Linked DNA regions of Homo sapiens. The protein of the gene in region 4 purifies or fractionates together with the protein of the main gene of each other region. This does not show direct contact. Each region holds a gene or a part of one and is shown on either strand. Other genes may lie near its edges.

Region 1 (7,417 bases), about 76 Mb from region 4:
TTTATCAGTTTAAAGCATTTGAATTTTGGACTGTTTGAAATACATATTTTTGAAGTTTTGCTTCATATTTGTTAGATTGATTGACTTAAGTTTTATAACCAGAAAGTACTATAGAATATACATGATTCATGAGATGTATATTTTTCTGAAGAGTTTACATTCATACTAATAGTTTTAGCATAATCAAATTAATATCTAGGCTTCCAATTTTTTTTAACAAAAGTTAATTATAAATATTGTTTTTCCAGTTGTCATTTTTATCTTGGGAGGATATCATTAATTATAGGTACTGTTTTTAACTATATAGTTTCAACATTGTAAGTATTTACATGGTCTTCAGATCAAATTGGGCTTTTTGCTCTTATTAGAAGCTGCTTTTTGAACTATGTCCTTAGTTAAACTTGTTTTTCCTCCATATGTCACTCTCTAGGTTTGTTTTTGCAGGGTTGTAGCTAGGCTACTAGGAAAAAAGTTGAAGCATTTGTTTTGGAAAATAAAACCATGTGAAGATTTGCATGGCTTGTAAAGAAATACAAAAGAAATATGCTGGTCAAAACTTAGGTACTACCAACCTTGAAAGAATTTTTTCCTGGTGGTCTAATATTGCACAGTAAGAGGATATATATGATGCTAGCTTTTACACCTTCCTCTGAAAAATCTTAATTGGCAGACAAGATGCCAAGTAACAGCAATTCTATTACCTACCCATAAGATTGGCTCTTCATAGTAAGAAATAGTAATCGAGTGACTTGATAAGTTACCTCTTTGCTACGTCAGATTGAATATCATCATTACTGATGAGCAGATAATGCAGTGTGTTTTTTAAATTACAAGTGGAATAATTTTTTAATATGAACTGCTTTTTCATTTGACCTATTGTAAGACTGTCATTATATGTGTTATTCCTCCTTTACAAGTTTAATATTTGCTCACATTCCCCTGTAAGTTTGCTATTAATTGGATGGATGGCTGTTAGCCTAGTGTTTTATGATATATCTTCATAATATTACAGATAATTTAAATTAGGAAGAGCAAGCTAGTATGCTGGCCATGTATATTTTAATAGTGTTTTGTTATTTTTGATACAAATATTGACAGTCATTAAATATAGACTTGAGTATTAATGGTCTGCCAGACATTAACTTAATTTTCTCAAATATACATTTATTCAGTTATAGCTTGTCTACAAAAATTTCTTAGAGTCTAAAATTGAAAATGCAATTGATTATTTTAACATTGGCATTTAATTTTTACAAATATAAGTGCCTGCCTGTATCAAAGTTTCTCACCTACTCCAGAAATATATACACGTACTGTGTACCCACAAAAATTAAAAATTAAAAAAAAGTAAAGTGCTTACAGATAATGTGTAAAAGCAGTCTATTTAAAAATTGGAGGCCAGGTGCGGTGGCTCACGCCTGTAATCTCAGCACTTTGGGAGGCCGAGGCAGACGGATTACCTGAGGTCAGGAGTTTGAGACCAGCCTGGCCAACATGGTGAAACCCCGTGTCTACCAAAAATAGAAAAATTAGCCTGGCATGGTGGCTCATGCCTGTAATCCCAGCTACTTGGGAGGCTGATGCAGGAGAACTGCTTGAGCCCGGGAGTCGGAGGTTGCAGTGAGCGGAGATCGTGCTACTGCACTCTAGTCTGGCCGACAGAGTGAGACTCTTTCTCAAAAAAATAAAATAAAATAAAATAAATAAATTAAAAATTGGATACTAATCATCTGTGATGTTTATGCACTTTATTTTCATGTAGTTCCTTTTCTTGGCATGTACATCTCAATGTGTTCCACCAATGTTTATTATTAGGATATTCCTATAGTATGAAAGGATAAGGTATAGTTTCCCACATTTTGTAGATGGAGATATTAAAGTGCAAAAAAAAAAAAAATTAAATGGCTTAGGGAACATTTCATTAATTGGACCAAAATGTTGTGTTCATGACGTGTTCAATAATATTTGGAAATTACTTATGGTTAAATTTATGCCCAAGTATCTCTTTGCCTAATGTGTTCCATATTTACTTGGTGGATTTTAATTTTTTGTTCTGTTTTGTTGTTGAAATTGGGGGACAGTTTGCTGGTCTTATCTGGGTTAAGAATTTGAAGTTTTGGTATGAAGATTTAGGTAAATATTTCAAATATTTTAAAATTTTGTTTTTGCTTACTGATGCCAATATTACAGCTATAGTCAAGGTTAACTTGATGTTTCCTTTATAAAACTTGATTTTTTTGGAAAGGGGGTGAAATATCTTGGACATTAAAAATTTATTGTACAAAACTATATGTTACTAGTTTTCTGGCACTGAAATATTCATTTCTATTTATATGTACCTACCTTTAGAATAGTCAGAAACTTAATTGTAGAGTTATGTTTACCATAGTACATTTTCAATCGCATTGTGAATTTATTCTATTTTTTTTTTCTTGGTGGGTAAAGCTCTTTCTTAAATTACACCATTTGAGGGAGTTTACATTTGTTAGTTAAATTGAATGAATACACTCATGTGTTCTCTAGTTAGTGTCCACCATATAGATCAATTCTTTTAAGAGAAAGCCTTAGGTATATAAGCACTGAGTTTGTAAATTGCTAAACGGAACTGAATAAACTGATTGCCCTTCTTATTCAAGGAAGGAAAATAAAAGTATATGGAGATTGGAAGACAAATATATCAATAAGTTATTCATGCATGTATTTCAAATTTAACTTTATAAACTGTATCGTGTGTGTGTGTGTGTGTGTGTGTGTGTGTGTGTGTGTGTGTAGACAGGGGTCTTGCTTTGTTGCCCATGCTTGTCTTGAATGCCTGGCTTCAAGGTATCCTCCCGCCTCAGCCTTCCAAAGTGCTGGGATACAAAAGTGAGCCACTGTGCCTCAGCCTTCCAAAGTGCTCGGATACAAAAGTGAGCCACTGAGCCTGGCAGTGTATCCATTTTAAAAAACAAAAAACCTGATTTTGATATTTTCTGATATTCTGTTACGTTTTTAAAGGACATGCAGACTTGTTGAAAGGAAGAGCAGAAAGTGGAGAAAGTTGAAAGACTTATCAAAGCTCAGCTAGGTTAGTGTTATGTCTTAGAATCCATGTTTTTAGAGCTTAAATTGCCCAAAGTAGAAATAAATTGAGTTCTTTCTAAGACAGATAGTTTTCACTGAGGTTACAAATTTTCCTGAGGATACAAAATGAGAACATTATAATTCCCAAAAATGTTTATATGCTTTTTTTTTGCAGTTAAATTTTCTACCTTAGCTGTTAACTAAAAATGTCCCTGAATAGAAGCACTCTTTCATAATCCTATCTCTGCTTTGTTGTGGATTCAGTATTTTCATAGTTGATCGTGTGAAATCTATAACGTCTTTGATAGACAAGTATATTGTGGCCGGGCGTGGTGGCTCACGCCCTGTAATCCCAACACTTTGGGAGGCCAAGGCAGGCGAATCACAAGGTCAGGAGACCAAGACCAGTCTGGCTAACACAGTGAAACCCTGTCTCTACTAAAAATACAAAAAATTAGCTAGGCGTGGTGGCATGCACCTGTAGTCCCAGCTACTCGGGAGGCTGAGGCAGGAGAATCACTTGAACTCGGGAGGCGGAGCTTGCAGTGAGCCGAGATCGTGCCACTGCACTCCAGCCTGGGTGACAGAGCGAGACTCCGTCTGAAAAAAAAAAAAAAAGTATATTGCTACTAGATATTTTATATTCTCAAACTGAATGAAATTAGAAGTTGGAAAGGAAGGAAAAACACAGTTTTAACTGCATTTCATTAGTCAGTGAGCAGGTACTTAATATATATTTTTAGGTAAAGTATTTAAAAGTTTTAATTATATTGTGAAGGTGCTTATTGGGTGTTTTCCAGACCTACTAAAGTTTAATGATAAAAATGGATTTTGTCTGAATTGGGAAGGACATAGAGGATAAATGGAGCAGACGGATGGGGTTGAGGGGATTCTCCTTTTGCTGCTTTGATCACCACAGTCTTTGGTATTCAGGGCCAACTAGAGTTTGTACTCTAGAAACACTAGTTTTCCAGAAATGTTAATATATTTCCATGAAAAGAAGACGAAATGAACTTGAGCAAAAGGCTAAACTTGGGTTACTTTATTGCAGGACTTCTTAGAGACTTTATTTTGCTAATGTGTATTGTGGATCTCTAGACATTTTGGGGAAACATTACTACTTCTCTTCCCTTCCCCATAGTAAATAGTGTTTCACCAGTGTTTCACCCCACAGTAAATAGTGTAACACCATCGCCAAAACTGCAATTACTTGTGCACCAACCTAAGAGATGCACAACTATACATTTTCTACTGTTTAAACTATAATGTGATAAAAGAAATAACAAACTTTTTTCTGTTTTAAAACATAAATTTCACTTGTGCTTGGATACTTTCTGTGTATTCATTATGTTGTGAATTGATAATTCATTTGACTAAATACATTGCAATAAACTATTGCTGGAATGGAAGTCTCTTAGTGATGTCCAGGAATAGCTATCACATTCTGAATTGTTGACCAAAAATGATAGACCCATATTCCATGAATATCTAAGTCAGCGTTTACAGGGCTTCACTCCCATCTTACTGCCATAGAAATTTTTGGTGGAGCCCCAGGGAGAATGTGCTGGTTTTGATGTTTTGGCTGCTGCCTTCCCTCTCCCCCCGCCCTTTTTTTCCCCATTATACCATTGATTTGGAGTAAAGGGGTCAATTTGTTCTTTAGACTGTCTTAAATTCTGGCTTTGATTGCTTTCTTTTGGTGTCAATTAACTTGTTCCTCTATCCCTCATACATATTTGCTGAAAAGTGATAGATCTAAAGGTTAATAATATTCAGATTTAATATTTTAGGCATACTTGATAGGTACTGCTGTGCTTTTCATCATATCATGAGGCATATAATGTTTAGTTGTCCCCTTTTAGTGATGCTAAGATTGAACAGTGGTTTTAGGTATTAATAATTTGATTAATATGTATTTCCAAAAAGTGCTCCAGGTGATTCTTAAGTACACTGAAGTTTGAGAACAGTTGATCTAAGTATTGTAATGAAACCAATTTAGTTGCTGAGATGACTAGTTTAACATGGCATGAACATATTGGTCAGGGTTACATCCAGAACAAAACCTCCAGGTGACATCTGGTCTAGGGGCACCTGCTCAAGCTGCACCTGTCATCTCTGACCACAGCTTGGACACACTTATACTTTGTCTCTGGACTCTAGAGAAGGTAACAAGGGCTCCACTTTAGTTAAGGGAAAAAAAGAGTAAATGAACTACCAAATTCTAACTTATCCTAAGTGTGTTTATGTAATTTGGATTAAAAAAATTAATTAAAAATAAGTGTTCCTCACTTATTCCTAATTGGAGAACTTTCTTTACATATATGTATGGTTTTTTTTTCTCATAGAACTTTACTATATTCTTTCCAAATGGGGTACCATTTGTTTTACTGAATTTACTGGATGCTTGTTTGTGAAAATTTTGTTGGTCTGTCCTGGTATTTCGTAGTAGAGTTAACATGTATAAATTCCTGTGAAAGTAATAATACTAACAATAACCTGTTTTGTTTAATGTCCACCAGCTTTGTTTTTCAAAACATTTTCATATGGGAGATTTTATTTATTTATTTTTATTTATTTTTGAGACGGAGTTGCTCTCTGTCACTCAGGCTGGAGTGCAGTGGCATGATCTTGGCTCACTGCAACCTTCACCTCCTGGGTTCCAGTGATTCTCCTGCCTCAGTCTCCCAGGTAGCTGGAATTACAGGCGTGTGCCACCATACCCGGCTAATTTTTGTATTTTAGTAGAGATGGGGTTTCAGTTGGCCAAGCTGGTCTACAAACTCCTGATCTCAGGTGATCCACCCATCTTGACCTCCCAAAGTGTTGGGATTACAGGCATGAGCCACTGCACCCGGCTGGCCGGAGATTTTATTTTTATCATTTCAAATTTGAGAAGTAATTGTGTTATTTAATCTTAGAAAAAATAACAACTAGGAAAAATATTCTTTCTTTTTTTATGTATAAAAGCAAGGGAAAAAATTCTTTATGCCACCCAAACTTTTTTCTTCCTGGGGCATATGGGCTACTTTTTTTTTTTTTTTTTTTTTTTTTTTTTTTTTTAAGGCTTTAGGTTATATCCAACTCCCAGCCTTAAGTGTCAGCCACAGTTGCTAGTCAGGAAAGGATATTTTACATATTTTCAGACCCTACTTTCCCTGCTTCACCTTCCCATTCCCTTCCCTGCTGATAGACCTGCTGTACATTTTACAGAGTGTTGTCTTTTTTTTTCTTTTTGAGACAGTTTCGCTCTTGTTACCCAGGCTAGAGTGCAGTGGTGTGATCTTGGCTCACTGCAGCCTCCACCTCTTGGGTTCAAGTGATTCTCCTGCCTCAGCCTCCCAAGTAGCTGGGATGATAGGTGCCCGCCACCATGCCCAGCTAATTATTTTGTTTTTTTGCTTTTTTAGTAGAAATGGGGTTTCACCATGTTGGCCAGGGTGGTCTCAAACTCCTGACCTCAGGTGATTCACCTGCTTTGGCCTCCCAAAGTGCTGAGATTACAGGCGTGAGCCACTGCGCCCGGCCAGAGCATTGTCTTAATTGTCTTATAGATAATCCTACATTATCCATAGTTGCTATTCATCTTATGCAGGTATATTCCATGTTCCAGGTGTGCTTGGCTTTTATTTGTATCAGTAAATAATTTTTAAAACTACCATATAATTGGGATAAAATATAAAGTTACTTTTTTTTTTTTTTTTTTTTTTTTGAGACAGCGTCTGGCTCTGTCGCCCAGGCTGGAGTGCAGAAAGTTACTTTTTATGAAGAATTCAAATAAAGTTGTGTAATCTATTGTTTGGATAAACATCTTATTGTAAAATATGGCCAGGTTTCATAATTCTGGTCTTTCTGAGTTCTTACTGTCATACTTGATAAGTATTTATATATAGTGGCCAGTAGTCAATTGCTGTGTGCACAAAGATGATCTTTATTAAATAATACGTATCTTTCATGGTGAAGTGTTTTTGGGTGAAATTTTATTCTGTCTCTATGCTAGCCCAGCGATTAATTTTAAATAAATAAAATGTTAATATAAACATACATGAGATCAGTGGGAACATTCTTCTATTACAATAGGTCAAGGAAGAGACCATAGCTAGGGCCCTGTCCAGAAAATACCTAATTTGTAATATTTTAAAAATGGGATGAATTTAACTTTTTCAGTAGTAAGGCTCAGGTTGATCACACTTTCCATAATGGTTCATAGATTAAGTGAATTTGCAATACGCTTGAGCTCAGATCAGACCACATAGAACTTCATAAACAGTAGTTAGTGGCTTAGAGTAACTTGTACCTCCCAGTGTGCTTGCAAATAATAGGTAGTCTATCAAGAGTTCTTAAGTGGTTTGGTATA
Region 2 (7,417 bases), on a different chromosome or scaffold from region 4:
CCAGCCACAATGCCATGGCAACCACCTTCCACAACGGGGTCCCCACACTTCGGTTTCATGCAACTGAAGTCCATTCCACTTGGTGCCCCAGCAACAAAACTGTTACTCACATCACAGCACTGTGCAGCGCCAGGCTTAGTCATTCCACAGCCCCGCTGCAGAGACACCCGCAGCCGCTACCTGCAGCCACGACCCATGGCGCCCGCCCCCTGCAACCACGGCCCCGGTGCCATCACAACTACATTCCATTATACTGAGTTGCCATGACAACCATATTTCACTACCCATGATGCCACGACAACCACAATTCATGACCTACTGTGCTGAGGCAACCAGAGTCTATATTGCCCACAAGCCCACCATGGGAAACCACATTCTGTTAACCACAACTCTATGGCGAGCTCATCCTGCTACCGGTGCCCAGGTGGTGGTGTCCGTCACTCACACCACACAGCCCACTACCTGCCATGCCTTGGCCCCTGTCTCTTGCTACTCCTTTTGTCTTGTTTTGGTTTTTGAAACAAGGTCTCACTCTGTTGCCCAGGCTGCAGCATAGTGGCACCATCACAGTGCACTCTGCAGCCTTGACCTCCCAGGCTCCAGCGATCCTCCCACCTCAGCCTCCCGAGTAGCTGGGACTAATGGGGTGCGAAACTATGCCCAGCCTTTTTTTTTTTTTTTTTTTTTTGAGACGGAGTCTTGCTCTGATACCCAGGGTGGAGTGCAGTGGTGCAATCTTGGCTCATGGCAACCTCTGAGCCCCGGGTTCAAGCGATTCTCCTGCCTCAGCCTCCGGAGTAGCTGGAACTACAGGCACGCACCACCACACCCAGCTAAATTTTGTATTTTTATAGAGATGGGGTTTCACCATGTTGGCCAGGATGGTCTTGATCTCTTGACCTCATGATCTGCTCGCCCCAGCCTCCCAAAGTGCTGGGATTACAGATGTGAGCCACATCACCCAGCCTGGCCTATTTTTTTTTTAATAGATGGGCTCTCATTATGTTGCCCTGGCTAGTCAAAAACTCCCAGATTCAAGGGGCTGGGTGCTGCGGTGGCTCACGCCTGTAATCCCAGCACTTTGGGAGGTCAAGGCAGGCAGATCACCTGAGGTCAGGAGTTTGAGACCAGCCTGGCCAACATGGTGAAACCCCCGTCTCTACTAAAAATATTAAAAATTAGCCAGGCATGGTGGCGGGTGCCTGTAATCCTAGCTACTCGGGAGGCTGAAGCACAAGAATCACTTGAACCCAGGAGGCGGAGGTTGCAGTGAGCCAAGATCATGCCAATGCACTCCAGCCTGGGTGACAGAGGGAGACTCTGTCTCAAAAAACAAAACAAAACAAAACAAAACAAAAACCTTCTGGGCTCAAGCGAGCCTCCCACTTCAGCCTCCCGAGTAGCTGGGGCTAATGGGGTGCAACACCATGCCCAGCTAACTTTTTTTATATATAGATGGGATCTCACTATGTTGCCCAGGCTGGTCTCAAACTCCTGGGCTCAAGGGAGCCTCCGGCCTCAGCCTCCTGAGTTGCTGGGATTACAGGTGCACAACAACACACCTGGATAATTTTTAAATTTTTTGTAGAGATGGGGGTCTTGCTATGTTGCTCAGGCTGGTCTCAAATTCCTGGCCTCAAGTGATCCTCCCACCTCTGCCTCCCAAAGTGCTGGGATTACAGGCGTGAGCCACCACACCTGGCCTCTCACTACTCTTGATGCCATGCTAAGCACAGGCAGCTACCCACAGTGCCATGAGAGCCACATCCCATTATCCCTAAAGCCTCACTGATCCGACCCAATTCCCACAATCCTCAGCAGTTGCATCAGCCTCGCTAGCTCTGGTTATCCACAGTATCCCCTACATGCTCCGGGTCCCCTCGGTCCTCACCGCCTTGCCTCCCTCCCTCCAGGTCTGCACTCCTGAATGTCCTCTGCACCCGGCCCCCAGAAACCTCAGGTGGGGAGCATCACCTGATCGCCCACAGTCCGCACAGGAGATGAGGTCCTCGGGACACCCCGTCTTCTTGGAGCCCCCCAGGCAGAAGTCACAGTAGCCGTTGGGGATGACAGTGCCGTCGGGCGCCTTCTTGGCTGCAAGACAGCAGACAGGCATTGGCACGGGGCAGGCAAGGGCACCCCGCAAAGGTGGCTGCAGACTTTAGGAGCAGAAGGAGGCATCCGTACCTGTGTGTTTCCTTTGTGCCTCAGGGACCCAGGCCAATTCTTTGTAAAACTCTGGGGTAGGGGGGACAGAGAGAGGGACTCTCACCACAGGCAAGGCTCCACCCTGCCCCCAGCCTCAGCCCCAAGGATGGACCTCTTAGTCCAGGCGTGGGGAGCTGGGAAGAGTGAGTAGCTACCCCAAGCTGTGGGGAGAGGTGAAAACAGTTCTCATCGGGACTCCCAACTCTGCCTTTTTAAATTTTTTTTTCAATTAAAAATAAAGGCAGGGTCTTGGTATGTTGCCCAGGCTGGTCTCCAACTCCTGGCCTCCAGTGATCCTCCCACCTCGGCCACTGCCACAAAGTGGCGGGATTATAAGCGTGAGCCACTGCACCCAGCCAGGATTCCCAACTCCTTGAGACAACTGACATGTCCTCTTTATTGGGTCAAAACTTGGTAGACAGCTTGAGGAAGGGCTCCCTGCCTCCCTTCTCACATACATGTCTCCCAGCCAGCCACTCCCAACTGCACCCTCAGTAATTTGTATCTAACAAATTCAGCGAGTACCCCAGCCAAGATCTGGTATGGAAACAGACACTCGGAAGAAAAACTCCGAACACTGAGGTGCGTGGGTGTGTAGTGGCCAGGGGTGAAGACACTCAGCCTCTGCCTCTGAGAGATAGGTGGGAAGACAGTGTCTCCCTACTGCCTCTCCCAAACCCTCCTCCCCTCCCCCATCCTTCAGCTGTCAGAACTGGCATGGGATTGGCAAGGGCGGAAGCCAAGGGCTCCCAGGCCACAGACCCTGCCCCTTGACCAAAGCTTAGCAGAGAAAGGAGAAAGGGAAGGCAGGGCGGGAGGGGAGCCATCTATCACCCCCCCTCCCCAAGCTCTAATTGAAACAATAAATCAGACCCAGAAATATTACGCCCGGCCAGGAGCGAAGGAGCGATGGTTGGTTGCCATGGCAACCCCGGAGCCAGCATCCCCATGGTCGGTGGGGGGAGGGAACGGCTGAGCTGGAGATTTTCCAGAAATGTCTAATGCCCCCCCACCCCCACCCCCAGCTGGGCTCCTCTTCCCCACTCCCAGGGCCCCTGGCCACCCCCACCTGGCCTGCCAGCTCACGTTTATGGTTGTTTTTCCGGTGGAAGGGCAGGGCGTGGCGTTCGGCGTTCTCCTCCCCCTCCTCCTCGGCCAGGTGGGTGTGGGTGTAGTGGTAGCTGAGCCCCGGCCGGTTCTTATACCGTTTCCCACAGACTGGGGAGCGAGCGAGCCAGGAGGGCCTGTCAGCCCCTCCGGGCCCCTGCCGCCTCCACCCTGGCCTCCAGGATCACACCTCCCCCCTCAGCCAGAGACCTGAGCAGCCTCCCAACCCGGGTCTGGAACGGGAGGGAGAGGGCCACGAGGTGGGGAGTCTCTGGGCACCCCTCTCTCTGCCTTTCCCCCTCTTCAGAAGGACTCACTATCACAGACATACGGCTTGTCTCGGTCCTCCAGGGAAGCGGTGTCCTGGCGTTTCCGGAGACCCCCGATGCCATATGCCTGTGGGGAGAGTCAGGAGTGAGGGGCCAAGAAAGTGAGAAAACAGGCCAGGCGTGGTGGCTCACACCTGTAATCCCAGCACTTTGGGAGGCCGAGGCAGGCGGATCACGAGGTCAAGAGATCGAGACCACCTTGGCCAACATGGTGAAGCCCCGTCTCTACTAAAAATAGAAAAATTAGCTGGGCATGGTGGCGCGTGCCTGTAGTCCCAGCTACTCGGGAGGCTGAGGCAGGAGAATCGCTTGAACCCGGGAGGCGGAGGTTGCAGTGAGCAGATATTGCGCCACTGCACTCTAGCCTGTGACAGAGCGAGACTCCGTCTCAAAAAAAAGAAAAAAAAGAAAAAAGAAAGTGAGAAAACAGTGTCTTTTGCAAATTCAAATTGCAGCTGTACAAATGTCCTAGCTGTGGGGCCTTGAACCTCTCCAAGGTTCAGCTTCTTCCTCTGTGGCATGGGGATGAAGGTAGCTCTAACCCACTGCATAATCTCTGCTTTGCAAATGGCTTAATACAGATGAGCCTCAGTTTCCTCATCTGTAAAATGGGTATAAAATCCCCCACCCCTGCAGGCCGCTCTGGGGATTCAATGAGGTCAGACTGAGGTCAGACTGTGGCAGGGGCGGACCACTGCACCTGCTCCATGAATGAGACCTGTCATTGAGGGGAGCGGGGAAGAGGAGAAGCTTGGGGTGATACCTTTCCTTTGGCCCTGTTCTTCCTCCTGGGAATGTCATCCTCCAAGTCTTCCACCTCGAGGTCATGCGGAAACTCCAGCAACTGCTGTTTCTGGGCAATAGAGAAAGGAGACGGGTCAAGAAAGTGGGGGCCACTGACCTGCTTTTGAGGGGCTCTGGGCAAAGGTGGAGATTGGGGGTGAGAGTATAAGTCAGGAGTTCTTCCAAATAGAGATGAAGTCTGGGAGGATGGTGACTGGGATGCCCAACAGCCAGAAGAAACCGGGGGGGTTTCAGAGCAGGAACGTGAGGGCCCGGGCTGGTGGCAGGCAGGGGTGAGACGAAGCCATGCAGCGGGGGTCCCCCAGAGGTGGGCCCACCTGACAGTCCATAATGGTCTCCTCCTCCTTCAGCTCAATCTTCTTCTCCCCCGTCTCTGCACACAGTAGAGCCTCGAGGACCGGCCCTTCCGGGAGGCCACCCTCCTTCTTCAGGGGTGCTTCACAGTCTGGGGACAGGGCCATGGGGGGGTCAGATGGGGAAGTTGACCCCGGAGGACTCCTCAAACTATGCAGGTGGGGGGACCATGCTCTTTGCAGGAGGGAAGAGGCTGCAGAGGCAAGGATTTAACCACATGCCCTAGGAGGGAGGCCCAGACTCTGGGGAGACCCAGTCACGCCCTCAGATGCCCTGGGATGCACAGCAGGAGACACGGTCAGAACTTTGGATACACCAGAAAGCCTCAGAAAAAGACACAGTTAGGCCATCAGGCACACCCAGACCTACTCAGGGAAGACACAGCGACTCTCAAACATACCCAGACAAATATGGACAGATCCAGACACTCGCAGAGGAGACACAGGGACACCCGCAGGGGACATCCAGACAGATCGTCTGAGACAGATGCGGGAAGGAAGAGGCCCAGCCATGCTGTCTTTTTTCTTTTTTTTTTGAGACAGGGTCTCGCTCTGTCACCCAGGTTGGAGTGCAGTGGCGCAATCTCAGCTCACTGCGACTCCCAGGCTCAAGTGATCCTCCCACCTCAGCCTCCTGAGTAGCTGGGACTACAGGCAGAGTAGCTGGCATGCTACCACACTGGGCTAATTTTTGTATTTTTGGTAGAGATGGGGTTTCATCGTGTTAATCAGGCTGGTCTCAAACTCCTGAGTTCAAGCGATCCTCTGCCTCGGCCTTCCAAAGTGCTGGAATTACAGGCATAAGCCACACTCTCAGATACAGCCTAGAGACTCAAAGAGGTATAGCCAGATCCTTGGAGACACCCAGACACAGGGAGGAGACATAGCTGGACCCATGGGTACACTCAGAAATGCTCAGAGACAATTAGCTGGCCAGGCGCGTTGGCTCACACCTGTAATCCCAACACTTTAGGAGGCTGAGGCGGGTGGATCACTTGAGGTCAGGAGTTTGAGACCAGCCTGGCCAACATGGTAAAACCTCATCTCTACTTAAAAAAAAAAAAATACAAAAATTAGCCGGGTGTAGGGGCACATGCCTGTAATCCCAGCTACTCAGGAGGTTGAGGCAGAGAATCACTTGAACCCGGGATGCGGAGGTTGCAGTGAGCCGAGATCGTGCCACTGCACTCCAAACTGGGTGAAAAAAAAAAAGAAAGGAAGAAGGAAGGAAGGAGGGAAAGAAAAGAAAAAGAAAGAGAGAGAAAGAAAGAAAGAAGGAAGGAAAGAAAGAAAGAAAGGAAGGAAGGAAAGAAAAGAAAAAGAGAGAGAGAGAAAGAAAGAGAAAGAAAGAAAGAAAGAGAAAGAAAGAAAGAGGCCGGGTGCGGTGGCTCACGCCTGTAATCCCAGCACTTTGGGAGGCCGAGGCGGGCAGATCATGAGGTCAGGAGATCGAGACCATCCTGGCTAACACGGTGAAACCCCGTCTCTACTAAAAATACAAAAAATTAGCTGGGCGTAGTGGCAGGCGCCTGTAGTCCCAGCTACTCGGGAGGCTGAGGCAGGAGAATGGCGTGAACCCAGGAGGCGGAGCTTGCAGTGAGATCGCGCCACTGCACTCCAGCCTGGGCGACAGAGCAAGACTCCGTCTCAAAAAAAAAAAAGAAAAAGAAAAAGAAAAAAGAAAAAAAGAAAGAAACAATTAGCCCTCCAGATACACCTAGACCCTGGGGAAGACACAGCCAGATGAGATGCTTGGACACATAGCGGGGAGATACCGACATACTCAGGGAGAATCACTCAGCTAGATACACACAAACACACACAGGAGACAGACAGGAAGAGACACAGCCAGGTGGGCACTGCCACGCTCCTGGGTACACACAGACCCTCGGACTCAGGAAGAGAAACTGACCCCGAGGATCCCGATATTCCTAAACACATTCAAGGGTAAGTCCAGATCCTCTGATGGACTGGCACACACGTGCAGAAATACACCTGATACGCCAGACACCATCAGGAAGATTCTCCCAGACACTCCGAGGCACCCACACACCCACAGAAAGAGACGGCCGCACCGCCTAACACACCCAGACACACTCGGGAGGAGCCGGACACCCTGACAGACCAGACATACACAAGACACAAGCCTTCTAAGACACTTGGAGACACCTGGGAAGATACACCTAAGAGAGGAAAGAGCTCCAACCAGACACTGAGACATCCAGACGCCCTTGGGGAGATACAGAGGCAGACACCCTCAGGCACCCACAGAAAAAAATACAGGCAGATGGCCGGGCATGGTGACTCAAGCCTGTAATCCCAGCACTCTGGGAGGCCAAGGCAGGTGGATCACCTGAGGTCAGGAGTTCGAGACCAGCCTGGCCAACATGGTGAAACCCTGTCTCTACTAAAAATACAAAAAAATTAGCCGGGCATGTCAGTGTGCATCTGTAATCCCAGCTACTCAGGAGGCTGAGACAGGAGAATCGCTTGAACCCACTAGGCGGAGGTTGCAGTGAGCTGAGATTGCGCCACTGTACTCCAGCCTGGGTGACAGAGCCAGACTCCATCTCAAAAAAAAAAAAAATACAGGCAGACTGATCCATCCCAGTTCCC
Region 3 (7,417 bases), on a different chromosome or scaffold from region 4:
AGAATAAAATGTAGCTAATATGAGTGAGGAGGTTCTAGAAGTGTGATGTCCTCTAGATTCCATGCAGAAGGTTGTTCCAGAGCTACTTCCCTTCTGGAGTGGGACCTCATGCTTCCTAGAACATGGACAGCTCTCTCTTACTGGTGATTCATCCTTGGAAGCCCATGCTCTTTGTTAAAGGAGTTTCTAAGTTGCCTGGTGGATTTGGGATAGAAAATAAAATCTAGTCAAGACCTGACATTGAGTTGCATTCTGCTCATTGGCAAGGCTCTTGGTGCTCATTGCCTTGGTCTTCATAACTGGGAGGTCTTCAGTCTTTCCAGGGAGGTGTGTTTCCCTCTGGGTGTGTTTCCCTCTGGGTGTGTTTCAGTCTTCCCTGGCCTCACCCCTTCACTCTCTGACTCTGGCAGGCTCGGGGACCAGTTCTACAAGGAAGCCATTGAGCACTGCCGGAGTTACAACTCACGGCTGTGTGCAGAGCGCAGCGTGCGTCTTCCCTTCCTGGACTCACAGACTGGGGTGGCCCAGAACAACTGCTACATCTGGATGGAGAAGAGGCACCGAGGCCCAGGTGAGCTGCGCCACTCCTGGGACATGCGCATGTGCAGGCTCCCAGCCTGGAGGGAGGAGGACCGCAGCTTGTCTGGGAAACCAGGCAGCCTGGGTAGGATCGGGGTGGGGCAAGCTGCACATGGGCCTCTGAGATACCTTAAAGAAGCTCAGCTACTTTTATGGCTCCTGGCAGGTGTTTCAAGGAATGTGACAAGGATGGTGTGGGGCATTGAAGCCATGTGGCAGGGGTGGGGTGGGGTGGGGAGTGAAAGAGCTAAAGGTGTTTATCCCAAAGAAGGCAAGACTGAGGACATGACAGCAATCTTCATCTTTTACCTTTGGGTGTTGGTTACAAGCCGGAAATCTGCCATTAGATCTGGGTGTGAGGCTTACCTTTGTCACCAAACTTCTGTCCCTCAGGTTCCTCATCTGTAAAATGTGAATAATAATAGTACTTACCACATAAGATTTCGTCTGAATTAAATGAGAAAATTTATAAAAACTCTTAAATGAGTTTAGCACATAGCAAGTATGTGCTTCCAAAATGCTGGGTATTATTATTATTATTGTTATTTTTTTTTTTTTGAGATGGACTCTTGCTGTGTTGCCCAGGCTGGAGTGCAGTGGTGCGATCTCGACTCACCGCCTCCCGGGTTCAAGTGATTCTCATGCTTCAGCCTCCTGAGTCGCTGGGATTACAGGCGTGCGCCACCACACCCAGCTAGTTTTTGTATTTTTAGTAGAGACGGGGTTTCACCATGTTGGTCAGGCTGTCTCGAACTCCTGATCTCATGATCTGCCTGCCTGGGCCTCCCATAGTGCTGGGATTACAGGCGTGAGCCACTGCACCTGGCCTATTATTATTGATATTACTGTTATTACTACAGCTACAGTGACACTAGTCTTCTAGGCTGCAAAGAACAGAATAAAGACCTTTTTATTAGGGAGACAGCTACAGGAATGTGATTTTTCTGGCTCTGCCTGGATATGTTTTTAAAAATGTTTCATTTGGAAAAATTTCACCTTCATATAAAACTGAAGACAATAGTAAAACACATCCCCATGTAGCCCTGCTTCAACAATGTTCAACTCATGGTCAATCGTGTTTCATCTATACGCACTCCTTACTTTTCTCCCTGACCTCATTTTATTTTGAAGCAAATCCACAAAAGCACGTGATTTCATCTGTAAATATTTTGTTATGTATCTCTAAATGGTAAAGAACTTAAACAAACAAACACACTCACAATCACTATCAGAGCTCAAATAATTAGCAATAAGACTTTAATATCATCAAATATTTGGCCAACATTCATTTTTCCCCCTGTAGTTTAAATCAGGATCCAAATGGGAACCCTACATTGCAACTGGTTAATGTGTCTTTTAACATCTCTGGGTTTCTCTCTGTCTCTGCCTCTCTCTCTTTCCTCCTTGCATGTTACTTGTTGAAGACACTGGGTTGCTTACGCTGTAGGGTTTCCCAGAAGGATTTGGTTGCGTTCCCATGGTGTTATTACTGTGAATTGGTAGTTAGGTCTAGAGATTTATTCAGGTTCCATTTTTTTTTGGTAAGAACAACTCCTGAGTGGTAGTGTGTACTTTCATCAAGAGGCTCATACAGTCTGGTTACCTCTTTTACTGATGTTAGCAGCCCTTCATGATAATTGCCTAGATTCTTTATCCCATTAAGGGTTGCAAAAAGTTAATATTCAATCCAGGACTATCATTATATCTTCATTTGTTAGCTCTACAACTTCTATAAAGAAAAACATTCCCTCATTAAAATTTTAGTTATTGTGAGATACAGTTCACATATGAAAGGCAGGATAAATGACTTTTTTCCCCTCTATTTACCAGTTTTCAAAATAATGAGTTGGTTCCCTAGCATTCTCCAAAGACGATCAATATAATAATAATTATTTTTTTGAATACCACCAGGAACTCACAGATTTAAACATATTTGATGTATTTTAATCCAGTGTAGCTATTATTCTTATGAGGCTTATCTTGCCTCATCTCTGGCCATTCAGGATTCTGGCCAGTGCTGATGTGTTTTTTTTTTTTTTTTTTTTTGAGATGGAGTCTCACTCAGTAGCCAGGCTGGAGTGCAGTGGCATGATCTCGGCTCACTGCAACCTCTGCCTCCCGGGTTCAAGCGATTCTCCTGCCTCAGCCTCCCGAGTAGCTGGGACTACAGGCACATGCCACCACACCCAGCTAATTTTTGTATTTTTAGCAGAGATGGGGTTTCACCATGTTGGCCAGGATTGTCTTGATCTCTTGACCTCATGATCCGCCTGCCTCGGCCTCCCAAAGTTCTGGGATTACAGGCGTAAGCCACCGTGCCCGGCCCAGTGCTGGTGTTTTGAAACAACCCCAGTAGTTTCTGATGGCCTTCTTGCCATCCTAATATTAGGATGAAATATTTCAAGCTCATCCTGTACACTTCCTCCTCTCCAGGACTGAAATCAGCTATTTCTTGAAGAAATCCTGGCTCCTGTTTGTAGGAAAAGTTACTTAGAGACCGCAGTGCTGTTCATTGCTCCTGGCTTGGTCATTGTTTCTAGGCCTTATCAGTGACTAGAACTAAGAAATAGTATTCATTTGTTTTTTTCTTTTTCTTTTTAAGAGAAAATACATTATGAAATTATGTTGATACATCCCATTCAATTTAGATTTAAACAGTTTTTACTTAAGTATCTTAATTCTGTATCTCCTTTCTCCTACACCAAAAAATCCTAGAAATGATATTGATGTAATTACTTATTTGCTTTATTTTACACACACACACACACACACACACACACACACACACACAGACACTCACACACAGTATCAGAACAAACAATATGACTATTAACAATAAGATTACTGAAAAAGGTTTAAGATATTTTCTTTTTTTTGCAAGTCTTTTTGTCCTTAGGGTATATTCCATTAAACATGTGCAGCCAAATTACTCTCCTTTAAGGTCACTGAGATAGTTCCTCTGTGTGATTGTGCCACTAACTCAATACACAGTTGGATTTATTTGTTTCATTTTGCTTTCACTTATCAGGGTTTGCTTTTTGAGTGGGGAGGGGATTCATATAATTTCTTCTTTATTAAATCAACTTTTATCTTGAAATAATTAATAATTGCAATTGTGACTGTATTTGCAATTTGCAGTTGCAAATATAATAGAGATCCCCTATCTTCTTCATCCAATTTCCTCCAAGATTAATACATCTTACAATATCAAAACCAAAAAACTGACATTGGTAAAATGTGTATATGTAGCTTTATGCCATTTTATCACATGTCTAGATTTGTGTAACCACTTCTACAATCAAGATACAAAACTATTCTATTACCACCCAACACTCATTATTTAAATCCTTTTACCCTCCTCCCTTTATAATATAGTTGTCTTAAGCATTTCCTTTACATACATTGAAAACCATACCAGTGTTATAATTTTTACTTCAACCATCAAACATAATTTAGAAAACGTAAGAGAAGCGTTTATTGTATTTACTCATATTTTTACTCCTTCGTTGTTTTTCTTACTTACTGAAGTTCCAAGATTCCTTCTTTTAGCATTTACTTTCTGATGTAGTACTTTCTTTAGCCATTCTTTTAGAGTAAATCTGATGGTAACAACTTCTTAGTTTTCCTTCAGTGGAGAATGTCTTGATTTTGCCATCATTCCTGGAGGATATTTTTGCTGGATATAAAATTCTGAGTTGATAGTCCTTTTATTTTAGCAGTTGAAAAAGGTTTTGCCACTTCTTTCTGATGGTTAGTGATGAGAAATCTGCTGTCATTTAAATGCTTTTTTCCCTTATAAGTAAGGTGTCATTTCTCTCTCATTGTTTTCAAGTTTTTTCTTTGTTTTTAGTTTCAGAAACGTGATTTTGATGTGTTTTGCCATAGATTTTTTGGGTTTATTCTGTTTGAGTTTACTCAGCTTCTTCAACCTGTGGGTTTATGGGGTTTTTTTTTTTTTTTTTTTGCCAAATTTGGGAATTTTTCAGCCATTATTTCTTTGAATACTTCTTCAGTTCAACCCTCTTTCCCCTCTCCTTCTCGGACTTCAACAACACAAATGTTAGATCTTTTGTTATAGTCCCATAAGTCCCTGAGGCTGTGTTCATTTATTTTTAAAATTCTTCTCTCTGTTGCTCAGCTTGGGTGATTTCTATAGTTCTCTCTTCAAGTTCATTGCTTCTTTATTCTGTCCTCTGCCTTCTGCTGTTAAGCCAATCCATTGAGAGCTTTTTTATTTTTTGTTACAATTTTTTTCAGTTTTCAAATTTCTATTTGGTTCTTCATATTTTCTATTTCTTTGCTGAATGTGTTTTATGTGTTCATAATTGCTCGTTGAAACACTTTTAATGATGGCTGCTTTAAGATCCTTGTCAGATAATTCTAACATTTTTGTTATTTTCTTGTTGGTGTCTGTGTCTTTCCTCATTTGAGATTTTCCTGGTTCTTCATAAGATGAGTGGCTTTGACTGAATCTTGGACATTTTGGCTGTTATGTTATGAGACGCTAGATATTATTTAAATCTTCTATATTAGCAGGTCTCCTTTCAAGCTATGCTAGTAGGGGAGGCGAGGCTCCCCTTATTACTGTCAGATGGATGTGGAAATCCATCTTCTCTACTTGGCTTCTGTTGACATCCTCTTTAACAGGGGAAGAACACCTTGTTGTTGCTGAGTGGAGGTGGGAGTTCAGGCTCCCCACTAGGCCTCTACTGGTATTATCCTACTTGGGAGGAGGAGGGCCTCTACTGATACCACAAGGCACCAGCTCTTCCCTTGGCCTTCTCTGACACCAACCCAGCAAAGCTATTGGGATGCCTGCTTGTCTTGCTAGGCTGGTCCTTTCCTGGTTCTCTGGCTAGAGAGAGCAGGATTTTCTTGAGGTCTTTTTTGGTCTTCATTTGTTGGTGTTTCTGGGTTATCAGCTTTTCCAGAATCCAGTCCAGGATATATGAGGCATAAAGGAGACCCAAGATCGGGCTGGACACAGGCTCATGCCTGTAATCCCAGCACTTTGGGAGGCCAAAGGAGGAGGATTGCTTGAGCCCAGGAGTTCGAAACTAGCCTAAGCAACATAGTGAGACCTTGTCTCTATAAAAATTTAAAAAATTATCCAGGTGTGTTGGTGCGTGCCTGTAGTCCCAGCTACTTGGGAGGCTGAGGTGGGAGGATTGCTCAAGCACAGGAGTTTGAGGCTGCAGTGAGCCAGGATTGCGCCATTGCACTCCAGCCCAGGCTACAGAGTGATACTTTGTCTCAATAAATAGCTAGCTAGCTAGATAGTTAGATAGCTAGATAGATAGGTAGATAGATAAAATAATACCCAGGGAGCTCACCACCCACCCTGTTGTTTCTCAGGTCCCAAAGTCCCTAGCTGGTCTGACTGGTTCCCTTCATCTTTCAGTTATTTCTTATGTCTGTTCTATGAATAATGTCCAGGATATTTAGTTGTGCTTAGTGAGAGGAATATAAAAAAGTGTATCTATTTCATCTTTCCAGAAGCAGAAGTCCCTGAGATTGCCTTGTTATTAAAAAAGTTTAACAGCTTTATTGAAGTATAATTACATACAATAAATTGCACATACTTAATGTGTCCAGCTTGATAAGTTTTGACATATATTCACCTGTGGAACCATTACCACAATCAAGATAATGAACATATCCATGACTCGCAAAGGTTTCCTATGTGTTTAGAAATCTATCCTTCCTGCGCTTCTCCATGCCTCTACCCTTCTTTACTCCCTCCCCAGAGAAGCCATTGATTTGCTTTCTATACCAGAAACACACACTGTATACTCCCTTTTGTTTTTTTTTGAGATGGAGTCTCGCCTTGTTGCCCAGGCTGGAGTGCAGTGGCGCAATCTCTGCTCACTGCAAGCTCCGCCTCCTGGGTTCACGCCATTCTCCTGCCTCAGCCTCCCCGGCTAATTATTTTTGTATTTTTAGTAGAGATGGGGTTTCACCGTGTTAGCCAGGATGGTCTCGATCTCCTGACCTCGTGATCCACCCGCCTCGGCCTCCCAAAGTTCTGGGATTACAGGCGTGAGCCACCGCACCCGGCCTGTGTACTCCCTTTTTTAGGGACAAGGGCATGTCTGGCTTCTTTCACTTAGCATAATTACTAATTAATACTATATCAATAATTCCTTTTTATGCTGAGTAGTAGTCCATTGCATGGCTGTATCACAGTTAATTTATCCATTCACCTGTTGATGGACATTTGGATTTGTTTGCAGTCTTTGACTACTATAAATCAAGCCACTATGAACATTTGTGTACAAGTTTTTGAATGGACATATGCTTTCCTTTCTCCTTGAGAGGTTAACTACCTAGGAGTAGAACAACTAGATCATAAGAGAGATAGATGTTTCACTATTAAAGAAACTGCCAAGCTCTTTTCCAAAGTGGTTGTACCATTTTACATTGACTCCAGCAATATATGAGAGTTCCACTTCCTTTGTATCCTTGCCAACACTTGGTGTGGTCAGTTTGAAAATTTTTTTAGCCATTCTAATAGATATATAGTAGTATTTCATTGCAGTTTCAACTTGCATTCCCCTAGTTAATAATGATTTTGAGCATCTTCACATGTGCTTATTTGCCATCTGTGAGGGAAAATAAACTGTTTTATTCTCTATACTTTTACTCAATATTTCTGTGAGCAGATGTGTGGATGTCTTTTCCCCTACACCAAGCAATTCTCCAATTCCCTGCGGACACCAACTGGGTGTTCCACAGTTTAACTCAACTTTGACACTATCTACTGTGAGATATCGTCAGATTCCACAGACTAAGGGCTCAGCCCACAGCACTGCCTCAACTTCATATGCCAATTTCAAGT
Region 4 (7,417 bases):
GAGGGAAGCCGAAGTGTTTGGCAGATCATTTGGCCCCATGAGCCTTGGGTGGGTTTCTCCTCAGCCCTAGTGACCCCTAAAATTACCCCCCCGACCCACCCACTGTCCCCTGATGCTTCCCCCACCCCCGGAAAAAGCTGTGGCCTCCCTCTCATTTGGGGCAGGCTGCCTCCTGTTCTCTTTTTCTGGTGTTTCAGCAAGGCAGGCCAGTGGAGGTGAGGTGACCAGAAGATGGCTAAAGGGAAAACAAAATGGTGGGCCTCTTTTTGGGAAACTGGGCCAGGGTTTGGGGGCCCTGTGCTGGTGGAGGAGAGAAGACCCCAGGGCGATGGTAGGAGACGAAAGCTTGGGCTGCAGCGTAAGCTTGGAGGCCCGCTGCGGTGGCTCACGCCTGTAATCCCAGAGCTTTGGGAGGCTGAGACAGGAGGATTGCTTGAGCCCAGGAGTTTGAGACCAGCCTGGGTCTCAAACCAAAAAAAAAGAAAAAGAAAAAAAAGAGCCGGGCGCGGTGGCTCACGCCTGTAATTTCAGCACTCTGGGAGGCCGGGCAGGCGGATCACGAGGTCAGGAGATCAAGACCATCCTGGCAAACATGGTGAAACCCCGTCTCTACTAAAAAAATACAAAAAAATTAGCCAGGCGTGGTGGCGGGCGCCTGTAGTCCCAGCTACTTGGGAGGCTGAGGCAGGAGAATGGCGGGAACCCAGGAGGTGGAGCTTGCAGTGAGCGGAGATTGCGCCACCGCACTCCAGCCTGGGCAACAGAGCGAGACTCCATCTCAAAAAAAAAAAAGAAGAAGAAGAAAAAAGAAAAATTAGTCTGGACGCAGTGGCTCATGCCTGTAATCCCAGCACTTTGGGAGGCCGAGGCAGGCAGGTCACCTGAAGTCAGGAGTTGGAAACCAGCCTGGCCAACATGGTGAAACCCTGTCTCTACTAAAAATACAAAAAATTAGCTGGATGTGGTGGTACACGCCTGTAATCCCAGCTACTCTTAAGGCTGAGGCAGGAAAATTGCTTGAACCTGGGAGGCGCAGGTTGCAGTAAGCCGAGATCGCGCCACTGCACTCCAGCCTGAGCAACAGAGCAAGACTCCATCTCAAAAAAAAAAAAAAAAAAAAAAGAAGAAAGAAAAGAGAAAAGGCCGGGCACGTTGGCTCACACCTGTAATCCCAGCACTTTAGGAGGCCGAGGAGGGAGGATCACGAGGTCAGGAGATCGAGACCATCCTGGCTAACAGTGAAACCCCATCTCTACTAAAAATACAAAAAATTAGCCGGGAGTGGTGGCAGGCGCCTATAGTCCCACCTACTTGGGAGGATGAGGCAGGAGAATGGCATGAACCCACGAGGCAGAGCTTGCAGTGAGCCAAGATTGCACCACTGTACTCCAGCCTGGGCGACAGAGCGAGACTCCGTCTCAAAAAAAAAAAAAAAAAAAGAAAAAAATTAGACAGGCATGGTGACCCTCGTCTGTAATCCCAGCTACTCAGGAGGCTAAGCCTGGAGGATCACTTGAGCCCAGGAGGTTGAGGCTGCAGTGAGCTACGATTGTGCCACTGTACTCTAGCCTGGGTGACAGGGTGAGACCTTGTCTCAAAAAACAAACAAAAAAAGTAGGCTTAGGCCCAGGACCCCTTAGCACCTGGTCTGAGGGTTCCCTCAATGACTTGCTGTGAGGACTGAGAAAGGTCTGTGCCTGAAGAGCTCCCGTCTGTCCCAGGAGAGGTAGAGGTTTGGGCCTGAGGCCTCCCTCACCTCAGCTCCTCCAGAGGTTTCATCATGGAGACATTCCTACTGGGCACATGGCAGGTCAGGCAGACCTGGGCCTAGCTAGGGTGAGGCCAGCCATGGGCCAGGCCTCTTGAGGTGACAGGGACTAGCCATGAGGAGTGAGTACAAGGACAGGGAGTAGAGCTTTCCTGGAGGGAGTCAGCAGGGTCCCCTTGAGTGGTGGGTAACCCTAAGATGGTCTTGTTGGCTAACCCTTGGACCTGGACACAGGAGAACATTCGAAATTGGCCTTAGCCTGGAGAATCTGGGATGGATTCTTGTAGTTTATATAGGAGTCCGTGCTGGGGAGGAGCAGTTGGGGCTATATTCCTACTGCTGGGACCTCATTTTTTCCTTTCCTCCCAGAAGCTCAAGTGTAATGGGAAGGGAAAGGTGTTGAAGTCAGGGTAAGGTGACGGGGCCGCCAAGACAGGAGGCGCGGGGCACACCCAGGGCCAGCTTTGCAGCAAGTTGGGCTGCAGCCTGGTGGTTGTGGGGATTTCTGCACCTGGTGCTTACAGGTGTCAAGAGTGAGGGCATCTGAGGGGGGCCAGAGAGCCCATCTGGGGCAAGCTGTCGCTCCCTGGGGCATGTGGGCCCAGGTCATGTTTTCAAGAGTAGCCAGAAGTCTGGATTCTTATGCAAAGCCTGTTTTGTTGTTTGTTTGTTTGTTTGTTTGAAGTTTGGCAGCAGATTTAACATTTTTAAAGTACTGTGCAGGCCAAACAAAACACGCCTGTTGACTGGTTGTTTGCCATCCTAAATATAAAGTGGGGCCCATGTGTGGTGGCTCACACCTGTAATCCCAGCATTTTGGGAGGCCAAGGCAGGAAGATCACTTGAGCCCAGGAGGTCGAGGCTGCAGTGAGCAGTGATCGCACCACCGCACTCCAGCCTGGGCAACAGAGGGAGACCTTATCTCAAAAAAATAACAAATAGGCTGGGCACAGTGGCTTATACCTGTAATTCCAGCACTTTGGGAGGCCAAGGCGGGTGGGTCACCTGAGGTCAAGAGTTTGATGTCAGCCTGGCCAACATGGTGAAACCCGTCTCTACTAAAAATACAAAAATTAGCCGGGCGTGGTGGCATGTGCTTGTAGTCCCAGCTACTCAGGAGGCTGAGGCAGGAGAATCGCTTGAACCCGGGAGGCGGAGGTTGCAGTGAGCCGAGATTGTGCCACTGCACTCCAGCCTGGGCCACAGAGCAGGAGTCCGTCTCAAAAAAATAAAAAAAATAAAAAAATAAGAAAGTGATGAGTATAGCTTAATACCCTCATTGGGGAAGAGGAGCAACGCCCTTTTTTGGGGAGGGGTATGTGTTCTGTGGTGATGGTTTTGGGGGGCAATTGTGGGAAACCTCAGCTGCTCCGCTGAACCCGTGTGCCCACCCAGTGTGTCTGTGGCTGTGAAATCCCATGTCCTCCTGGGTGCTCACTTGGTGCCTTAAACTTGAGCTCCATGGCCCCTCCGGGTGGCTGCTTAGCTGAGCATAGGTCCAGCTCAGAGGTAGAATTCTTAATGTTCTTGCCTCTGTCCCAGAGTCCCCTCAATGTCCACACCTAGAAATACAGTTTCTCATCACTGGGGTAACTTGAGAACTCGGTGAAGAGGTTGCCAGTTGGGGCAAAGAGAGGCACGAAAGCCTGGCTGCATTCAGCTTGTAGCCTGCGGTGGCCTCGAGCCTCGCTGGGAAGCAGCTGCAAACTTGCATCTTGGCTGATTTGCGGCCGCAAAGCCCAGATCTCTGGCACACTTTCTGCCCTGAAAGGTGTCCTGTGTGTTACAAGTCAATTACTTTTTTTTTTTTTTCCCAAACACAATCAAACCTTGAATGGGTTGATTTACTGGGAAGCTGGTCCAGGGCTCATGAGTAATGAATGGCTTTGGCCAATCTGCATGGAGTCCTGGCAATTTGTCATTCTTCCTCCAGCTTCTGTTACCCTGGCGCTCCTTTAGAATGATTCTTGGTTTTCATGGCCAACAGAATAGCAGGAGGTGGTGTCTGGGGTCCGAGCCCAAATCTAATTCTCTTCTGCCACTTCCTGTCTGTGAGACCCCAAGCTAGTGGTATAACCTCTCTGGGCATCCTGTTTCTGCATCTGTAAAAAGGGTGACAATCGTCCCCCTCTTGTAGCCTGTTGGGAATCCCAGGGAGAGAGGGTGTGTAAGTAGAGTGCTTGGCGTGGAGCCTGGCATGTAATAGCCTGGGCACACAGTGGCTATTGTGATGGTTGCTCTAACAACTGAGGTTCTTCCCAGGAGCACTCGGTCTCTTCTGGACACCTTCTGATTGCTCAGAATTGAGGAGGGGAAAGGTGGGCATTGTGGTTTGTCTGCTCTGCCCACAGGAGGCAGGAGACGGGCCAGTGGACTTAGACACTCGTCTTTCCTGCATCGTTTCTGGGTGAAAAGGTGCAAGGAGGAGGGAGCAGAGAGGCTGGTCTCAACAGCTGTGCTGGGTGAAGGGTTCGAGTGCTGGCTCTGGGAGAATGAGTTCACCTTCACCGCCCTGTGCCTCGGTTTCTTTATCTGTCAAATGGGGAAGTTGCCATTTCCTGCCGGATGAGCCGGCACAGTCCTTGGTACATAGAAGGCGCTAGGAATGGCCACTGGTATAATAAGAAAAGCCGGGCCGTAGCGTCCTCTGATGGAACACGTGGGACCCGAGCGGGCAGGGTTTTTGGGGGTGAGGTGTCTGTGGTTTCGGCTGGCTGGGTTTGAGTATGCTCCGTCATCCCGCAACCCCCGTGGTGACAGGGTGGGAGTCCTGTAACCTGTCACACCAGCATGTGAGGGCCACATGCCCCACGAGGGGGTGATCTAAGGCTGAGTTTGGGCAGAGAGGCCAAAAAAAGGTGCCAGGCAGCTCACGGACAGAGGTGCTCGTGCCACACAGAATTCTCAGTTCTGGGAATTTTTGTCACCAAAATTGCTGAGGACTCGGGCAGCTACGTCGCCTGTACCAGGGGTGCGCCTGCCCCAACAGTGCCTGCTGGGCCCCTTAAATCCGCCAGCCTCCTAGCTGAGCCATCAGTGGCTCCTTGGTGGCCTCGCAGGTCTCCTGATCTGGCAGAGTCTTGATTTAGGAGCCTCGGTTCCAACCCCAGCCCTGCTTCTGGGAGGCTCTCCTGAGCCTCAGTCCCCTCAGGGGTGTGGCTGCTGGGTCTTCGTGGCGGTAAGGGACAAGTCGGAGTGCAGGGGGTCAAGGACAGGAGGTGGCTGGCTGTAGCAATAATCGGAAAAATGACAGTGGCTCGGAGCAGAGTGGTGGTGGTGGAGGAGAGGGTGGGCATTGTTATCTCGAATGAAAACCAGTCCTGTTTGCTTCTGTGGCTTGTAAGTTTCTCCTCATCCATAAACCTGCCTCTCACAGTGGGGGGTCTGGACTCCGTCCTTCAGGCGTTTGTAATGCAGCTGGGGTGACCTTGCAGACAGGGTCACTAGGAGCCCTGAATCAGGGGTGCAGTTCCCCTCCCACCTGGCTGCACCCACACATTCAGGCTGTGTAACCTCCTTTCGGGCCGAGGTCACCACTCCCTGGCTCTCCTTGGCCGCCACGAAGGGCATTCTTCCGGCAGAGTGTGGGCGGCTCCCCGGCTTGCCTGCTCATGCCTCCCCTGACCTCAGACGCATCGCCCAGAGGGCAGGAGGAGCCCCGGGGTGTCCTTGGTGACGACTCCACCCCCCATGAGAGGAATCGGCCTGCTGGCCTGAAGCCCTCTCTGCTGCCCAGACAGGCGCGGGTGGCCCAGTCCACTGGCTGCGTGGCATTGGCAGTGACACAGGAGGAACCTGGGCCCGACTCGTGCCACCCATAGGAGTCCTTGTAATGGCAGCCCCACCCTCAGCCTTTTTGGCGACAGCCTGGAGAGGGCAACCACCCTATGTGGTGTAACGGGTGGAGAAACCAGGCTTAGATGGGTGATGTGGCCTGCCCAGGGCCTCCCGCTAGTGAGGGTGGAGCTGGGATTCCAACCCTCATCTGTGTGATCTGGAGCTTGCTCTCAGCCCCAAGGGAGTGTGGCCTGTGTCCCCCAGGGATGAAGAGTCCCCGGTAACAGGCTCTTCCTCATCCTCCTCAGGGAGAAGAAATGGGTGACCGTTGGTGACACATCCCTACGAATCTACAAATGGGTCCCTGTGACGGAGCCCAAGGTTGATGACGTGAGTATGGAGGGCTGGTCCCCTGGGGTGGGCCACCCATTCGTGCTCCTCCCACCATGGGGAGGGAGATTGTCCACTGCTACCCACCGTGCTGGGGCTCTGGGACCAAGAGCCCCTGGGAGTAGAAGGACCCAGATTAGACCTGGGGAGGCTGCTGTACCAGTCCCCACCCCTCCCACTCCAGCCCCAGAGTCTGGCCCTCAGAGCGGTGGACGGGGGGATCCCGCAAGCTGTGTCTTCTTCTTCTTCTTCTTCTTCTTTTTGATACAGAGTCTCACTCTGCCGCCCAGGCTGGAGTGCAGTGGTGTGATCTTGGCTCACTGCATCCTCTGCCTCGTGAGTTCAAGCGATTCTCCAGCCTCAGCCTCCCGAGTAGCTGGGATTACAGGTGCACACCACCACACCCAGCCAATTTTTTCGTATTTTTAGTAGAGACGCAGTTTCACCGTGTTGGCCAGGCTCGTCTTGAACTCCTGACCTCGGGTGATCCACCTGCCTGGGCCTCCCAAAGTGCTGGAGTTAAGGCGTGAACCAGTGCGCCCGGCCTGCAAGTTGTGTCTTCTGGGCCGAGCGCCCCCCCCAGGGCTTGGCACTGTGTTTTGGGGCAGGTGTGGTGGTGCCCACAGTTAGGCACGTTCTCCCCACCTTTGTGGTTCTGTTCCTGAGCCTCTGACCATCTGCCAGGCCCTGGGCTGATGCCTCACATGTGGCATCTCCGTTATTTTTCCTACTCAGCCTGTGGAGTTGATCTTTTTAACCTCTCCTCTGTACAAGTGAGGGCACAGGCTCAGAGAGGTGAAGCCACTTCACATGGCTCACCTCAGAGCTGTGAATGGAGCTCAGGTCTGTCTGACTCCAAAGCGCAGGTTCTCTCTGCGCTTGGAGAGGCTTCTGGTGAGTGGAGCTGCTGGTGACAGGGGTCCCCGGTGCTAGGAAAGCCTGGTGTAGGGATGCGGGGCTCCAGGAGGGCTCCAGGAGGGGTGGCGCCATCCCGACTTCCACCACTAGAGGGAATGCGAGGCGCTGTCCTGTGATGGCTGGCAACTGCCCCGAGCAGACAGTGCTCTCCCAACTTCGTGGTTCCCAGGCCAGTTACCTCCAGAGACCCCTCTCATTTCCATCCCAAATCAAGAACAGTCTGCCCCATAGGCCTTTGCCTGGGCCATTCCCCCCTGCCTGGACTGCCTTCCGTATTTACTCAAACTCAGTCCTTCTACCTGGGAAGATGGCGCAGACTAACCCACATGGCTGCGGCCACTCCTGGGAGTGACGTAAAGTCATGATTGGTAGGTTTGGGGTGGGGGAAGCATGTGGGGGTCCAGCTTCCTCCAAAAAGACAGGGGCTAAGTTTCTCGCCCCCATCTTCAGTTATCTGCCCGGCAAGTCTTGGGTCTCTGGGCAGGGCTGTGGCTCCATTCTTCACCCCGTGATCACATGCTCACCCCTGAACTTGGGCCTTTGTTGTCCCTTCTGGTTCTAGCC

The links.
Region 1: the proteins of BCL7A (region 4) and ARID2 purify together in Homo sapiens (affinity purification with mass spectrometry; 4 studies listed by BioGRID and IntAct, with this or other methods). This does not show direct contact.
Region 2: the proteins of BCL7A (region 4) and DPF1 purify together in Homo sapiens (affinity purification with mass spectrometry; 4 studies listed by BioGRID and IntAct, with this or other methods). This does not show direct contact.
Region 3: the proteins of BCL7A (region 4) and DPF3 purify together in Homo sapiens (affinity purification with mass spectrometry; 4 studies listed by BioGRID and IntAct, with this or other methods). This does not show direct contact.

The regions. Positions count from the first base shown.
Region 1 is NC_000012.12:45,732,691-45,740,107, forward strand, and holds part of ARID2 (AT-rich interactive domain-containing protein 2), read left to right. Parts: intron 1-7,417. UniProt on the Homo sapiens protein: Involved in transcriptional activation and repression of select genes by chromatin remodeling (alteration of DNA-nucleosome topology). Required for the stability of the SWI/SNF chromatin remodeling complex SWI/SNF-B (PBAF).
Region 2 is NC_000019.10:38,214,166-38,221,582, forward strand, and holds part of DPF1 (zinc finger protein neuro-d4), read right to left. Parts: intron 4,894-7,417; coding exon 4,766-4,893; intron 4,498-4,765; coding exon 4,408-4,497; intron 3,712-4,407; coding exon 3,633-3,711; intron 3,427-3,632; coding exon 3,295-3,426; intron 2,239-3,294; coding exon 2,188-2,238; intron 2,095-2,187; coding exon 1,975-2,094; intron 1-1,974. UniProt on the Homo sapiens protein: May have an important role in developing neurons by participating in regulation of cell survival, possibly as a neurospecific transcription factor. Belongs to the neuron-specific chromatin remodeling complex (nBAF complex).
Region 3 is NC_000014.9:72,764,887-72,772,303, reverse strand, and holds part of DPF3 (zinc finger protein DPF3), read left to right. Parts: intron 1-410; coding exon 411-571; intron 572-7,417. UniProt on the Homo sapiens protein: Belongs to the neuron-specific chromatin remodeling complex (nBAF complex).
Region 4 is NC_000012.12:122,024,847-122,032,263, forward strand, and holds part of BCL7A (B-cell CLL/lymphoma 7 protein family member A), read left to right. Parts: intron 1-5,853; coding exon 5,854-5,935; intron 5,936-7,417.